Linked DNA regions of Homo sapiens: region 2 is linked to region 1. A link means that fine-mapping ties the variant in region 1 to the expression of a gene that starts in the linked region. Tissue or cell type: whole blood. Region 1 holds a variant in brackets; the other region holds the start of a gene. All regions are shown on one strand. Distances are between the middles of the regions.

Region 1 (8,104 bases):
GCCAGGCACAATGGCTCATACCCGTAATTCCAGCACTTTGGGAGGCCAAGGTGGGCAGATCACTTGAGGCCAGTAGTTTGAGACCAGTCTGGGCAACATGAGACCCCTTGTCTCTATAAAAAATAGAAAAAAATTAGCCAGGCATGGTGGTGGCACCTGTAGTCCCACCTACTCAGGAGGCTGAGGTGGAAGGATCACTTGAGACCAGGAGGTTGAAACTGCAGTGAGGTATAATTGTTCAACTGCATTCCAGCCTGGGCAACAGAGCAAGACTCTGTCTCAAAAGAAAAAAAAAAAAGACCAGAAAATAAATAGGCAGTGAAGTTTTTCTTGTATTAAACTTTGTATAAACAACCATCCAAGGCTGGGCGCAGTAATCCTAGCACTTTGGGAGGCCAAGACTGGCAGATCACCTGAGGTCAGGAGTTTGAGACCAGCCTGGCCAACATGGTGAAACTCCGTCTCTACTAAAAATACAAAATTAGCTGGGCATGGTGGTGCATGCCTGTAATCCCAGCCACTTGGGAGGCTGAGGCAGGAGAATTGCTTGAACCTAGGAAGTGGAGGTTGCAGTGAGCCAAGATCATGCCATTGCACTCCAGCCTGGGCGACAAGAGCAAAACTCCATCTAAAAAGAAAAAACAACCTTCCAAGCAAAATTCAAAATAAAACATAAAATAAATATTACAATACAGAAATAAATAATGAGTTAAATATTTGTTAATTACATTAATTTTTTTGTTTTGTTTTGTTTTTTTACAAAAGAGGGGAAAACAGCCAGGCCTGGTGGTTCACACCTGTAATCCCAGCACTTTGGGAGGCAAAGTAGGAAAACAAAGTAGGGAGACAAAGGCAGGAAGACTGCTTGAGCCCAGGAGTTTGAGACCAGCCTTGGCAACATGGTGAGACCCCCCATTTCTACAAAAAATACAAAAATTAGCCAGGCATGATGGCATGTGCCTGTAGTCTCAGCTACTCAAGTGGCTGAGACACGAGAATTGCTCGAACCCAGAGGGTGGAGATTGCAGTGAGCCAAGAGCATGCCACTACACTCCAGCCTGGGAGACAGAGCAAGACTCCGTCTCAAATAAATAAATAAATAAAAGATAACTAATAAAAATGAGCTAGTCTGAAGCTTACCTATATTTTATTAAAATTCAGTGGTAATGGCAGCAATTGCTTAGAACTTAGCCTGACAATGGAGTTCTTCCAGGGAGAAGTCCTTTATCACTGCCATTGTTCAGAATTGCCAGCACAAGGTGTTGCTAAAAGGCAGGGTGACTTTTAGTCAGTTTTGTTACTGTTTGTGAATTCCCTGCAGACAGTGCACTCTGATTGTCTACTGACCCACAAGTCATGCAGCTATCAAGGCCTATGGGGATCAGCCCAGGTCTTGCAACTTCAAGGCTAGTGCCTGCTTTGTCCTAGGTCAGCCATGGGGATTGACCTAAGTAGACCCAGCTCAGGTCAAAACCTCATGACTAGAAAGAGGCTGGAGTTGACTTTACCCAGGCATCTGCATCTTCTGCTTGTCCACCTTCACACAGAGGTCATTGCTTCCCCTCCTCTTTGGCAGACTCAACACCTTTTCCTTCTTGTACGTTTCTGCTGCGAGGAAGGCTGGTCTGACTCGCTCCCCAAACCGCTGCCCCTTCCCCTGTGCCCTTGCCCTCTCTCTGCCTCTTTCTCTTTCTGCAGCTCCAGGAGGAACTTCCTACCATCCTTGGTTCCCTTTCTTCTCACATGTTCGTAAAACCAGAATAATGAGGTTCATGAGGAGGATGCAAAGGACTACCATGCCCGGCACATAATAGGGACTCAGCAAATGATTGGTTACCACCCAGGGGATAGCCACTGAGTGCCTACTGTATACCAAGCACTTCTTGGTCCTTCATGCTCCCCTGGCCACCTGCTTTGGCCATCCTCATCCCAGGGTAGAGTGGGGTCAGTTGAGATGCACTGCCCCTTATGGAGGTTTTTCTAGGCAACTAAGGGAGAAAGGGGTTTCCAAGACAGCACTGACAGCCAGCCACTGCCTCTTCTCAGGGGACTGTCAGACCAACTCCTCAAAGGAATCCACCGGTGTAGTAGAAGAGACTAATAAACAGGCACTTATGTTTCCAGTTTTACCATCTAATGTCAATAAAATCCATAAGCATCTGTTGAGACAATACTGGCAGATTTATTAAGCATCTACTATGTGCAAGTCACACTCTAGAGATCACTTTTTCAGACTGGCCCCTTCAGTTCCTTTCCTAAGAGAAACCTGTTGCCCTCCCCTCTTATCTACCCAGTGCCCACAGGGCATTGTGGGCAGATCCAGACTACAGTGAGGTGCTCTGCCTCTCACACCTGTACGCAGGAAGGGGTCAGAGGCCACCTCTCTCTAACCTTCAGGGAGTGTCACCCCCTGTAAATACCCAGCACACGGTTCTCAACTGGACCTGTATGTATGGATCTCCTAAGAGCTGCATGCCTCCATCCAGCTTTCAACTATGAACATTTCCCAACACCCTGAAGAGCTGAAAGAACAGTACAATAAACACGCTCCACTTAGATTCAGCAATTGTTACCCATTTGGCACGTTAGCTTTAATGACTGTGTATGTATGTGTGCGTGCACGTGTGTGTTTGGCTAAACAGTTTAACAGTCAGTCGCATTATCATGACACTTCACCCCTCAACACTTTAGCGTGTGTCTCCCAAATATAAAGACACTCTCCTACATAACCACAACACCATTATCACACGCAAGAAAATTAACAACGATTCTTTAACATCCCATCATATCATATGCATATTCAAATTTCCCCTATTGTCATATTCAAATTTCCCAAAAAATGCCTTCAAGAATTGCTTTTCCCCCTAATGCAGGAGCCAATTGAGTTGCACACACTACATCTGTTTGTTTGTGCCTCTTTAGGTGCTACCTGTTAGCTGCTTCCTTGGAGAACGAGTAGGATCCAAGGGCTTCCAGTCCCGCCCCCATCACACCCCTTCCCTCTCCACACACCCCAGTATGCTTTCTTATTTGTTTTGGCTGCCGTTAATTTCTAAAATATTAAACAGGGCTGGGCACTGTGGCTTATGCCTGTAATCCCAGCACTTTGGGAGCTTGAGGCAGCTGGATCACTCAAGGTCAGGAGTTCAGGACCAGCCTGGCCAACATGGTGAAACGCTGTCTCTACTAAAAATACAAAAATTAGTGGGGCATGGTGGTGCATGCCTGTAATCCCAGCTACTCAGAAGGCTGAGGCAGGAGAATCACTTGAGGTGGAGGTTGCAGTGAGCCAAGATCACACCACTGCACTCCAGCCTGGGCAACAAAGTGAGACTCCATCTCAAAAAATGAAATAAAATAAGCCAGGCATGGTGGTTCATGCCTGTAATCTGAGCACTTTAGGAGG[C/T]TGAGGTGTGCGATCACCTAAAGTCAGGAGTTCAAGACCCGCCTGGCCAACATGGTGAAACCCCGTCTCTACTAAAAATACAAAAATTAGCCAGGCATGGTGGCAGGTTCCTGTAATCTCAGCTACTCAGGAGGCTGAGGTAGGAGAATCACTTGAACCCAGGAGACGGAGGTTGCAGTGAGCCAAGATCGCACCATTGCACTCCAGCCTGGGAGACAGAGCAAGACTCTGTCTCACAAAATAAATAAAAATTAAAATAAATAAATAAATATAAATAAAATAAAATATTAAATGTATTGATATTTAAATGAATGCCAAAATCTCTTTCCAAAAGTAAATAATAAAATCTGGAGATATTCTAAGATTTTGCATTTTCTCTCTAGGTGATCTAGTTCTCAACTAACTTCTGCTACTAAACAGCAATGTGACCTTGGCAAGTCCTTGGTGACATTCAGTAAATACTGGATGGATGGATGGATGGATGGGTGGATGGATGGATGGATGGATGGGTGGATGGATGGATGGATGGATGGATGGATGGATGGATGGATGGGTGGATGGATGGATGGATGGGTGGATGGATGGATAGATGGATGGATGGATGGACCAAAGCATTTGTCTGTTTCATCACTCTGGATTGATTATCTCTGTAAAAACAAGCAAGTCAGGCTGGACGCGGTGGCTCACGCCAGTAATCCCAGCACTTTGGGAGGCCAAGGCGGCCAGATCACGAGGTCGGGAGTTCAAGACCAACCTGGCCAATGTGGTGAAACTCTGTCTCTACTAAAAATACAAAAAATTAGCTGGGCGTGGTGGCGGGCACCTGTAATCCCAGGTACTCGGGAGGCTGAGGCAGAAGAATTGCTTGAACCCAGGAGGCAGAGGTTACGGTGAGCCAAGATTGCACCATGGCACTCCAGCCTGGGCAACAGAGGGAGACTCTGTCTTAAAAAAAAAAAAAAAAGAAAGAAAAAAACAAGCAAGTCAGAGGATCCAGTTCAGATCTCACATTCTGCTGTTATAAGGTTCTGGTCCTGGTACACACACACACACACACACACACACACACACACACACACACACACAGGGTATTGGCTATGGACCTCTCATCTTTCATTGAAAACCCCCCATTCCTTCTTTTTCTTACTGGAATCTTGTGTTCTTGTCCAGGTAGTTGGGTAGACTGAACTCCAAACTGTGTGCTTACTGCACCACCTGGTGAAAGAGTTGCAGTATCTGCAGTTTTTATCTACTCCAGTGAGTGGACGAGGCCACAGATGTCAGAAAGCTCTCCCCGTATTCTGAAACAAGGGCCGTCCTTCACTACCAGATCCCTTTTCAGTGCCTGACCATTTTATGAACCCAAATCTGTTTCTAACCTTCACCAGCATTTTGATTTTAATTTGGAAGAGGACCATGTGCCTGAGCATCAAACCATTCAAATGGAGCAAATAAGAACAGAGCTTGGCATGAAAACGAAAGAAAGACATGAAAAATCCATTTGGCACATGTTTATGATAGGAGCATAGGGCAAGCAACAACTGACAAACTTCAGGGAGAAATAGGTAAGTCAACAATTGTAGTTTGAAATATTACCAGACTCTTCTATGGTCAAGCAGAGGTGTTAAAAATAGGGGCAATATACTTAATAAGATTGAGCTATTAGCTCTATATAGCACTTTATACTTGGGGATAAAGAATATGCATTCTTTTTGAGATATTCAACATTTAAAACAATTTGGTAAGCTATAATGGAAGCCTTTACAAATTCCAAAGGATCCTTATTATTCAGACTATATTATTTGATAATAATGCAATATAATTAGAAATTTATAACAAAAGTCAAATTTTTTAAAATTTCAGGACAGACAGGCCAATGCCTATAAATTTTGGAGGAGGAGAGAAATAATGAATAACTTCAATTTTTTTAAGAAAAAGCTGGGTGATGTAGGGGCGGAAAGGGGATGATTTCTTTTCTCCTCATTATAAAGAATCACAGAAGGCCGGGCGCAGTGGCTCATGCCTGTAATCCCAGCACTTTGGGAGGCTGAGGCGGGTGGATCACCTGAAGATGGGAGTTGGAGACCAGCCTGACCAACATGGAGAAACCTCGTCTCTACTAAAAATACAAAATTAGCCGGGCATGGTGGCGCATGCCTGTAATCCCAGCTACTTGGGAGGCTGAGGCAGGAGAATCACTTGAACCAGGGAGGCGGAGGTTGCAGTGAGCCGAGATCGCGCCATTGCACTCCAGCCTGAGCAACAAGAGTGAAACTCAGTCTCAAAAAAAAAAAAAAAAAAAAAGAATCACAGGAGACACTCCTATAATGAAACACAGAATAACAACAGAAAACACATGCATGGGAGTCTACAAATATGAAAACTCAAGTACAGGGCCAAAGGACTGACACTTAAATACCCTCTTCATTAGGGAGAGGGAAGTGCGGAGTGTAAGAATAAATGATTTTCAGGGGAAATGAATGGACCTGGAAAACAGAAATTAACTTGTAAATAATTCTCTTTGGAATTTGGATGCGCACAAGAGGCAGACATCATCTTGTGAAAAAAGCTGGGCGTAGTGGCTCAAGCCTGTAATCCCAGCACTTTGGGAGGTTGAGGTGAGAGGATTGCGTGAGTCCAGGAGTTCAAGAATAGCCTGGGCAACATGGGGAGACGCCGTCTCCAAGAAATATCAAAAATTAGGCATGGTGGCACACTCTTATATTCCCAGCTACTCAGGAAGCTGAGGCAGGAGGCTCACTTGAGCCTGGGAGGTTGAGGCTGCATGAGCCATGTTTGGCCACTTTACTCCAGCCTGGGTGACAGAGTGAGACCTTGTCTCAAAAAATAAATTAAATAAATAAATGTCTTGGGAAAAAGTTCATCCAGGTGTGGTTACATTCTTCAGTCTTGCTTTTCTGAGATAATGAGATTTCAGGGAGAGGACGGAAGGCAATTGTGGTCCTATTTCGGGGTCTGGTTTCTAGGTAGATAAGAGAACTTCATTAAAAATTTTTTCTTAAACTTTATCAACTCCCAAGCACCTGGAAACTTCAGAAAATAGCCTCATTCTGTGCTTTGAGAGAAACAAAGAATTCAGAAACAGGAGTTGGGGGAAGGTCAAAGAGATCATGAGCCTGCTTCTTTAGTCCAGCATGTCAAAGAACCATTGGGATACCAGTTTCTGAGTCCCAACATTGACTTCCAAAAGAATCAAAATACAATCTTACGGATTTCGTCCAATGGAAAAATAGAAATTGTAGAAAATTGATAACATTTTTAATCCAAAAGAAGATAGGAAAAAGTAAAAAGAAGAAAATAAAGAGCTCATACAAAATAAAATGGTAGATCCAAATGTATTCATAACTATAAGAAAGATAAACATATTTGTCAGAGGCGTTCAAACCAGAATGACTCCATCTTGAATAGGGGCTGGGTAAAATAAGGCTGAGACCTACTGGACTGCATCCCCAGATGGTTAGGCATTCTAAGTCACAGGATGAGACAGGAGGTCACAAGATATAGGTCACAAAAACCACACTGATAAGACAGGATGCAGTAAAGAAGCCAGCTAAACCAGCTACTCAGGAGGCTGAGGCAGGAGAATCGCTTGAACCCGGGAGGCAGAGGTTGCAGTGAGCCGAGATTGGGCCATTGCACTCCAGCCTGGGCAACAAGAGCGAAACTCCATCTCAAAAAAAAAAAAAAGAAGAAGAAGAAGCCGGATAAAACCCACCAAAACCAAGATGATGACGAAGGTGACCTCTGGTCATCCTCATTGCTCATTATACATTAATTATAATGCATTGCCTTGTTAAAAGACACTCCCACTAACACCATGACCATTTACAAATGCGATGGCAATGTCCAGAAGTTACCCTATATGGTGTAAAAGGAAGAGGAACCCTCAGTTCCAGGAATTCCCACCCCTTTCCTGGAAATCTAATGAATAATCCACCCCTTGTTTGGCATATAATCAAGAAATAACTATAAATATACTCAGTCGAGCAGCCCATGCCACTGCTCTGTCTATACAGTAGTCGTTCTTTTATTCCTTTACGTTCTTCATAAACTTGCTTTCACTTTACTCTGTGGACAGGCCCTGAATTCTTTCTTGCGGGAGATCCAAGAATCCTCTCTTGGGGTCTGGATTGGGAGCCAATAACATATTTAACTCAGATATTAAAGGACAGAACGTATCAGATCAGATCACAGTTCTACACTGTCTCAAAAAATAATAATAATTTTTATTTATAAGGTAGGATATTCTATGGACCTCTGTTTCATGGGTCTCTGCCTGTTGCACCGTCTCCACCCCTGGTAATTATGACACCTAGCACATGCTTTAAAACCTTCTCGGTTGCCCACCTACAAGATACTTCAAACCAAGAGAATGGCTCTCGAAGCCCTTCACCATAGAGCCACAGTCTCCAGGTCTGGACCATTTGACAGCACCTTTCCCCCACACCCTCCCTTCCAACCACACCTGGCTCCCAAACTCCCCAACCTCACGGCCCCACTCACAACTGGGCATTGCCCACCTGTTAGCTCTGCCTAGAAGGCCTCTCCCCCTGGCCCATCTCTTCTGCCTGGCAACCAAACTACTATTGGTTCAAGACCCAGCTCCAACAGCACTTGCTCTGTAAAGCACTAGCCAACTGCTCTGCACCCCCTTCCCCGCTGCGTGGTCTCCCTGCA
Region 2 (8,104 bases), 120 kb after region 1:
TGAGATAGAAGAGCCAGGGAGGGAGACTACATCACAGGCAACACCACAGTCTGTGAAATTAGTTTCAGTTCTCACTGCTGCACTTCCTGCTGTCGCTGTATCCAGTACCTTCACGGACGCTTAACTGTCCCAAGCCTTGACAGTAGTACAGTTGGCCTTTCACGGCTGAAGTGACCCAGCTCAGTGCCACTGCAAGGTCCACCAGTGGAGCGACTTCCACACTCAAGTAAGAACCAGAGGATGAGAGAGCAAATGGAGGCACCCTGCTGGTTTCCAGGCCAAAAAAAACTAAAAAGGGAAGAAAAAGGACACCATCGCAGACACATCAGCCCAAGAAGAACACAGGTGCCTAACAGGCTCTGCTGCGAAAACCTAAGCCTTGTAAGAGGCACCTTTCCCCAGAACTTGTACTTTTTAAGATGAAAGGTTCTTACACAGAAACACAAACTTACACTCATCCAAGGGACACACAATGGCTGTTGCCTTGAATCCAAGCCAGGGGTGGAGTGAACAGATCTTGACGCGCAAGGACAGTCCACCCAAAGGTTCCTGAGTACTATGGAGCTCGTGAGAAACCTGGGGAAAGAGTCTCTATTTCCCCTAGTTTTGCATTTGTCCCAAAGCTTACATTTAACCAAATGTCCTAATCCTCAACATTCAAGTCTGCAACAAAGCAATGTTTGCTCTCAAAGTTGAAAAGAAGACAAGACATGGGGCTCCCTCCTCTATTGGCTCCTTCTGATCTTTCTCCCACTGCTTGAGCGAACACCCTCTAACAAGACTTCCATAGTGTCCAGACAGAAAGAAGAGGGAAAATAAATCCTGCTTGTCAGCTTCAACTAGGAGATAGCATGTCATTTCAGGAGCTTAATAACTCACTTCATGTATGGCAATTACACAACCTGGGCCCAATGGATCTGCTGACATTCGGGCCTGCAAGTGTGAATTGTCTCTTAATAAATGGGGAACTAGAGGGGAAAGACAACCACGTGTGCCCTCTGGCCTTCCCTCTCTGCTGGCAAGTGGTTCTGCTTCATTCTCCACAGTTCACTTGTTTGGTACTGAAATGAGGAAGAGTATGTACCTCACTATTTTTTTTTAAAGATGCTGTATTTCTCCCAGCCTACAAATGATACCAGTAGTAACTTGGTTGTCAGAAGAGCTAAGGATATGAAAAAAGGGCAGAAGAAAATATTTGAAGCAAAAGCCAAGTTTTTATGTGGGAAATGGACAAGTGTGGAGGGAGTGAAACAATGCTTAGTAGCAATAAACTTGAAAGAAGTTCTAACTTTAAAGAAACCAGGTGAATTATTACCTTTTGGAAGGGGTGTGTGTGTGCATGTAGAGGGAAGGCTGCTGCAGGAATTGCTGCCCCACCAAAAGAGCAAAGGAGGACATCCCCTACTGAGAGATGCAACATTACATAAGAACACAAGTTCAGGCCGGGCACGGTGGCTCACGCCCGTAATCCCAACACTTTGGGAGGCCAAGACGGGCAGATCACCTGAGGTCAGGCGTTCGAGACCAGCCTAGCCAACATGGTAAAACCAAGTCTCTACTAAAAATACAAAAATTAGCCAGGCGTGATGACACGCACCTGTAGTCCCAGCTGCTCAGGAGGCTGAGGCAGAGAATCGTTTGAACCTGGGAGGTGAAGGTTGCAGTGAGCCGAGATCGTGCCACTGCACTCCAGCCCGGGTGACAGAGCGAGACTCCATCTCAAAAAAAATAAAAAATAAAAAAGAACACAAGTTCAATCACCACACCTCAGAGACTGACCAGGAAAACAGACAAAGTGCTGAGGTCTCTTTATCTGCCAGCCTGTATCTGTAACACCTCATTCTACCCTTCTTTCTCTTCTATCTCACCAAATTCTGGGCTTTCAGAAGGCAGGCTTCAGCGAAAGAAGTCAAACTTGCCCATTTGACAGTGGGTTTGCTCTCAGGGTTTAAACACTGAGCACCCTGGCACCTGTCTCTATCTAGGTGTAAGTGAGGATTTGTTTCATATGCCATTTCTACTACAGTATCCAAAAAATTACTCTGCAGACAGGAAGTCCTATCTATCAGGACTCATACCAATACTGTCCTCTGTTTAACTCGCTGGGCAGAAGTTCCTTCAGCAGCAAATGGCCAGCAATGAAAGCTAACAACATAAACCAAAACAAATGGACTTAAAGGCTGTGAGTCCATGAGAGCTGGATTCTGACTTATTCAATGCAGTACCTGCAATACCTAGCACAGTGCCTGGCATACATTCGGTATCACATAACTACTTGGGAGTACTGAATGAAAGAATGAACAAATGAATCTTATGCAAACATACCGTAAGTGTGTACCCAGGAGAAAGAGTTTAGAATGCTCATGATCTGAGAAACAGCCTGAAGCAGCAGTGCTTTCAGAAGGTTTTAGAAAGACTCCAGGTTCAATTTTATCAAAAGGTAAACAAACCAGAAACTAGCAGTATAATCTAGTAGTTCAGACTGTGGGCTCCACCATGAGATACCTATGTGACATGGGCGAGTTATTTAACTTGTTTGGTTTGGGTCTCAACTAGAAGAATGGGGATAATAATATCTACATCAAAAGTCTGTTATTAAATGAGTTCAAAAAAGTAAAGCCCTTAGCACAAAGGTTGGTACTCAGTAAGTCCTCAAGAACCTTTCCATATTATTGCTGCTTAAATACCTTCTTTCCTGAGATGTAGACATACCTCCCCCAACTCCAGGAAAATTTTAATTTCTGGTTGAATATGCTTCTAGCTAAAAACACAAAACCCAGAGAACTCAGAAGTCAGTGCCAAGCACATGTCTCTACTAGCCTCCACTAGATGGTGACAGTTTGGGTGTGGAATTCCCAAAACAGAAAAGGTGTGTGTGCGTAACTCCTATGTATGTTTTTACACCAGAGGAACGAAAACAGCAAGAAATGAATTAACTACTGTGAAGGAAAGACATACTTCCCATCTCTGTAGATCAAAAAAGGGAGTAAATCCCTAGGCCTAATTGAACTGAGTAATCTTACTGCACCTCTGGAAGAGCACACAGGAGCCCAGTTAGCGAGAGCAACAAAGCCCAGCATGTCGCCTGCCACTGAAAGAAAATTCTGTGGGAACAACAGCTTTAGGCCTCCTTGCCCAGACGCCAACTTCCCTTTAACCAGCCCAAGACTTTATTTTGACGCCTCTTTGCTCCTGGGTCTTGCTGTCCCCATAACCACCTCCCCCTCCTGCTCCTAAATTCGTCCAGGGTAACTTTTCTCCACTTCAGCAGCTCCCCAGCCACGACTCCCATGAGGGAGAGTCAGATCCACACTCATAGCTGGGGTCTCAAAACCAAGCGAAAAAAGGAAAGTCTGTATGTACGTGCCTACTTTTTGAAAGAAAATAGCTGGTTTCGGGGAGTTTAGCCTGGTTAATAAGAGAAGTTTTTGAGATTAAAGAGCAGCCGAGGCGCGGGGGCTCCCGAATGCCGCGGTGCGCACAGGCGGGCTCTGAGATTTCCTCAGGAAATCCACCTTCTCTAAGCCAGCCCTGCCCCAGCGCAAGCCCCGCAGCTTTGCTGGGCTGAGGGCAGTAATGACAGTGGCACAGAGGGCCTCTGCCTACCTCCTCTGCACCCATCGGCACGGCGTCTGGCTCTTCCGGTGCTGCCCGGGCAGCGACGCGGGACGGCGCGCCCCGGACCGCGGGTCACCAAGTTCCCGGCCGCAAACCAGCCGCCGGTCCCCCCGGCCGCGCAGCCCCCACTGCTGGCCGGCTGGCCGCGCCACGCCAGCGCGGGGCTCCCAGCGGCGCGGCTCGCGGCCGGGTGACAGCGGGCCGGCGCAGAGAAGCGCGGGGAGCCGCCGAAGCCGGCCCGGGCTCCGGCCAGCGTCACTCCTGGGCGGTGCGCGCTGGTCCCGCGCCCCTGACAGCCGGCCGAGCGCGTCGATGGCACAATGCCGGCCCCGCCGCCCCCGGGCCGCGGTGACAACTCACCCGGGAGCCGGCGGAGACCTCCGGGATGGGGGCGCTCACAGCTTCCACGCCGCCGCTTGCGCGCGCCCGCAGTCTTCTCGGGTCTAGGCGAGGCCCCGCGTGCCCTTGTCTAGCTCGCTCTGGCCGGCGCTGTGGGCAGAGGAAGCGGGCGGGAGGGAGGGAGGAGGTGGGGCGGTCGCCGGCTTCGGAGAATAGAACGCGGCGGTAGCGACGGCTGCAGCGCCCGCGTCACTGACCCAGCTGTACCGCGCGGGCGGGGGAGGCCCCGCGGAGGGGAGGGGGCGGGGAAGGGGCGGGAAAGGGGCAGGGCCAGGCGCGCACGCAACGGCGCCGGCGTCGCGCCGCCGCGACCGCCCCGCCGGGAGGCCCTGCACGCACGCGCCGCCGGCCGGGCCAGGTACCCAAGGGAGAAGCGACGCGGTTGGGGAGGTGGGGGGTCCTTAAAGAGACAGTCCCTCTGCGCTGGAGTGGATGGGGCGGTGGCACCGACTCAGCTGGACTATGCGGCGTTTCCAGTGCGCTCTCCAGTTCGTTTACTATTATTATTATTTGCATGATTGAATTACTATTATTTGCAAAGAATTGTACTGCCCTGAGGTTTACAAGGCTTTTGGCGCATGTTGCCTTGTTAGCTCTTGAATTGCTCGTCTGACCTAGCTCGTCTGAAGCAGGTTATTATCTCCCTGTTAAGCAGTAATCCGAACTGTGGTTCCTAGCCTGCCAACATTAAAGCTGCCCGGGGGGTGGGTGGGGGTGAAAATGCAGATTCGGGGCCCCGAATGACCTCCAGCCATTGTGATTCAGTGGGGTCGGACTTGGGAATCTGTATTTTCACTAGCATTCTGAAGTGAGTGATCCTTCAGCATACTAAAAGCACACAAGGGATCTCAAGGTTGAGAAAACCGCAGTTCAGAGCCAGGACTGGCAGAGCCCGGGCTAGAAGCCTGCCACATTCCTAACTGTATTTCCCCTCTTGAGCCTTGCCTTCTGGGGCTATTTTCTAGCACATACTGAGTGAGCAGTTTGTGCACTGTATGGCTACATCGTTTATTGGTGATCTCTCATGCAGTGTGTCCTCGGTTTATGTGTTTACAGGGCCCGTGGCGCCTTGATGGGGAGGACTCTGGCTTTTTATCTTTGTACCCCAGGGCCTTGCACCGTGTCGGTCTCAGAGGTCCTCCATAAGTGTTAAGGAACTCCTACTTGTAAATCAGTGGTAGAGTCCACATCTGGACCTACAGACTTGTGTCTTTGCTGCAGCTTGGGTCAGGCAGGCCTCTTCTCCCAGATGCTCTTGGACAAAAGGATACACCTTCTCAGGGCCTCTCACCAGGCCTAGTTCTAGTAGGCTTTCGGGAAAAGCACTGTGAATTAACAGGGCATGTCCTTGTGAAGTAGCTTGAACCAAATAAACAGGATGCTCCTCCCCATGCACACAGACCCATCCCCAAAAGAACCCTTCCCTTCTGGGCCCCACAGCAACCTGTGGCTCGTTGCTATAATGCCTTTTTCATAAGTCTATCCTTGTTCTGCCTTCTTTCTTCCTTGCCTTCTTGGGTCCAGACTCATTAGAGAAGATGGGCACCCCTCCCTTCCTGCTCATTTGGGGCCACACTGCCCAGACCACTAGAAGATTGAAAAGCACAATTCAGAACTACCTGGGTCTGCCTCAGAGCACAACCAAATCAGTGTGGGCAGCAGGAACATGCCAGGCAGACCCAAGGCTCAGGGAGGGGACAAGGGGGAAGGAAGCAAGGGAAAGGGATGGAGGAAGAATTGGAGAAGATGAATGGAGGAAGGAGAAAAAGAAAGAAAGGAAAGGGAAGAAAGCAGGCATGGATGGTTCAGGTCAGATCAACTGCCAAAGTAACTGAGCCCCTGGCTGTGCACTGAAGTCAGTTTGGCCATTAAGAGGCTCAGTAACTTCATACAAGAACTGCCACCTTATAAAATCCCTTGTGAGACCCTATGCAGATCTGTCCATCACTACCCAAAAATCCTCAGTCGGGCGCGGTAGCTCACGCCTGTAATCCCAGCACTTTGGGAGGCTAAGGCAGGCAGATCACGAAGTCAGGAGTTTGAGACCAGCCTGGACAACATGGCGAAACCCCTTCTCTACTAAAAATACAAAAATTAGCCAGGCGTGGTGGCACATGCCTGTAATCCTAGCTATTCAGGAGCCTGAGGCAGGAGAATTGCTTGAACTCAGGAAGCAGAGGTTGCAGTGAGCCGAGATCGTGCCATTGCATTCCAGCCTGGGTGACAGAGTGAGACTGTCTCAAAAAAAAAAAATCCTCTCCCAGACCTTCAGGGTCCACAGAATGAACTCAAAGTCATCAGCAAGGACTGTAGTATCCTGTGCTGTCCACAGTCCGGCCCAAATGCTCTCCATCCCTCCACACACCCCACTCCAGCCTCCCCATACCACCTGCTGGTCTCTAACAAGCCATTCCTGTCACAAACCAGGTGCCCATGCTGTTTCCTCAATCTTGAAGGCCTTCTCTACTTACCCTTCAGAATCTTCCCAAGGCTGCTGCTTCTACTTTTCTGTGGCACTTTGGTTGAGCCCCAAAGTGCCACAGAAAAGTATTAAATTAAAATTTTTAAACATTTTAAATATTTAATTATTTATTTATTTATTTTGACGGAGTCTTGCTCTGTCGCCCAGGCTGGAGTGCAGTGGCATGATCTGAGCTCACTGCAACCTCCGCCTCCCGGGTTCAGGGGATTCTCCTGCCTCAGTCTCCCGAGTAGCTGGGTTACAGCTGGGATTAGCTTCCATTTCCTTCTGCTTTGAATTGCCAGAATCAGGGTCAAGTCTCCTCCCTTTATAAATGTCAGCTCACCAGCCTTTCCTGTCTTCTCATCCCCTCCTATCTGAAGTTCCACTGGCCTCTTCAGTACAGCTGACGAAAAGCCCCTGTTACATTCTACGTATAGGCCTTGCTCTTCTCACCCGCAAAATGGAATGGTACTTCCTGGCCTGGGGTGAATATTATCTTTCTGCCATTGAAAAGATCTCACAAGATGAAGGTTAAGAATAATTTAGACTTAGACATTCTCAAGTGGGAGGGATCATAGATTTTTTTAAATAAAATTCTTTAAAATTTTTAAGATTTTTTTTTAATTTAACAGCTTTCTCACACCTGTAACCCCAGCATTTTGGGAAGCTGAGGCAGGCTGATCATTTGAGGCCAGAAGTTCAAGACCAGCCTGGCCAACATGGCAAAACCTCGTCTCTACTAAAAATATAAAAATTAGCCTGGCGTGGTGGTGCACGCCTGTAATCCCAGCTATGTGGGAGGCTAGTCACAAGAATTGCTTGAACCTGGGAGGCAGAGGCTGCAATGAGCTGAGATTGCGCCACTGCACTCCAGCCTGGGCGACAGAGTGAGACTGTGTCTTAAATAAATTAATTAATTAATTAACAGCTTTATTGAGATATTCACATACCAGCAATTCACAGTTTAAATTTGTATTTATTTTGTATAACTTTACAAATTGTACAAATTTGCACATGTACAATTGTACATTTAGAGTGAACAATTCAATGGTTTTTAGTATATTTACAGAGTCGTACAATATTTTAGAACATTTTCATGACCCTAAAAAAAACTCCCATACCCATCAGCAGTCACTACCATTTCCTCCCTCCCTACCACCTTCCCTGCCTCCCTCCCTAGGCAACCAACAATCTACTTTCTGTCTCTATAGATTTGCCTATTCTGAGCACTCTCTATAAATAGAATCATACAAATATGTGGCCTTTATAATTGATTTTTTGTTTCTTCCACCTAACAATCAATTTTAAACCAGAGCTAATTTTTTATTTTCACTTTTCAATTCAGACCCTGCCTTATTCTAAAAGGACTTAAGATGGCTCTTTGAGCTAATATTCCTGGGTCCTTCCAGATTTCCAGCATAAATCTTTTTTTTTTTTTTTTTTTTGACGGAGTCTTGCTCTGTCGCCCAGGCTGGAGTGCAGTGGCATGATCTGAGCTCACTGCAACCTCCGCCTCCCAGGTTCAGGGGATTCTCCTGTCTCAGTCTCCCGAGTAGCTGGGACTATAGGTGCGTACCCCCACACCCAGCTAATTTTTGTATTTTTAGTAGAGACAGGGTTTCA

The links. PIP is the estimated chance that this variant, and not a neighbour inherited with it, causes the effect.
Region 2: it holds the start of SUSD6, and the variant in region 1 is fine-mapped to the expression of SUSD6 in whole blood (TOPMed, PIP above 0.99).

The regions. Positions count from the first base shown.
Region 1 is chr14:69,727,967-69,736,070 of GRCh38, reverse strand. No RefSeq gene overlaps it. Among named protein-coding and RNA genes, the nearest start is that of SRSF5, 35 kb to the left of the region's middle. The variant C/T (reference allele first, on the strand shown) is at 3,407.
Region 2 is chr14:69,607,703-69,615,806 of GRCh38, reverse strand. SUSD6 (sushi domain containing 6) reads right to left here and starts at 4,211. Exons shown (of 6, transcript NM_014734.4): 1 at 3,979-4,211. RefSeq lists enhancers at 1-7, 278-327 and a silencer at 3,693-4,462.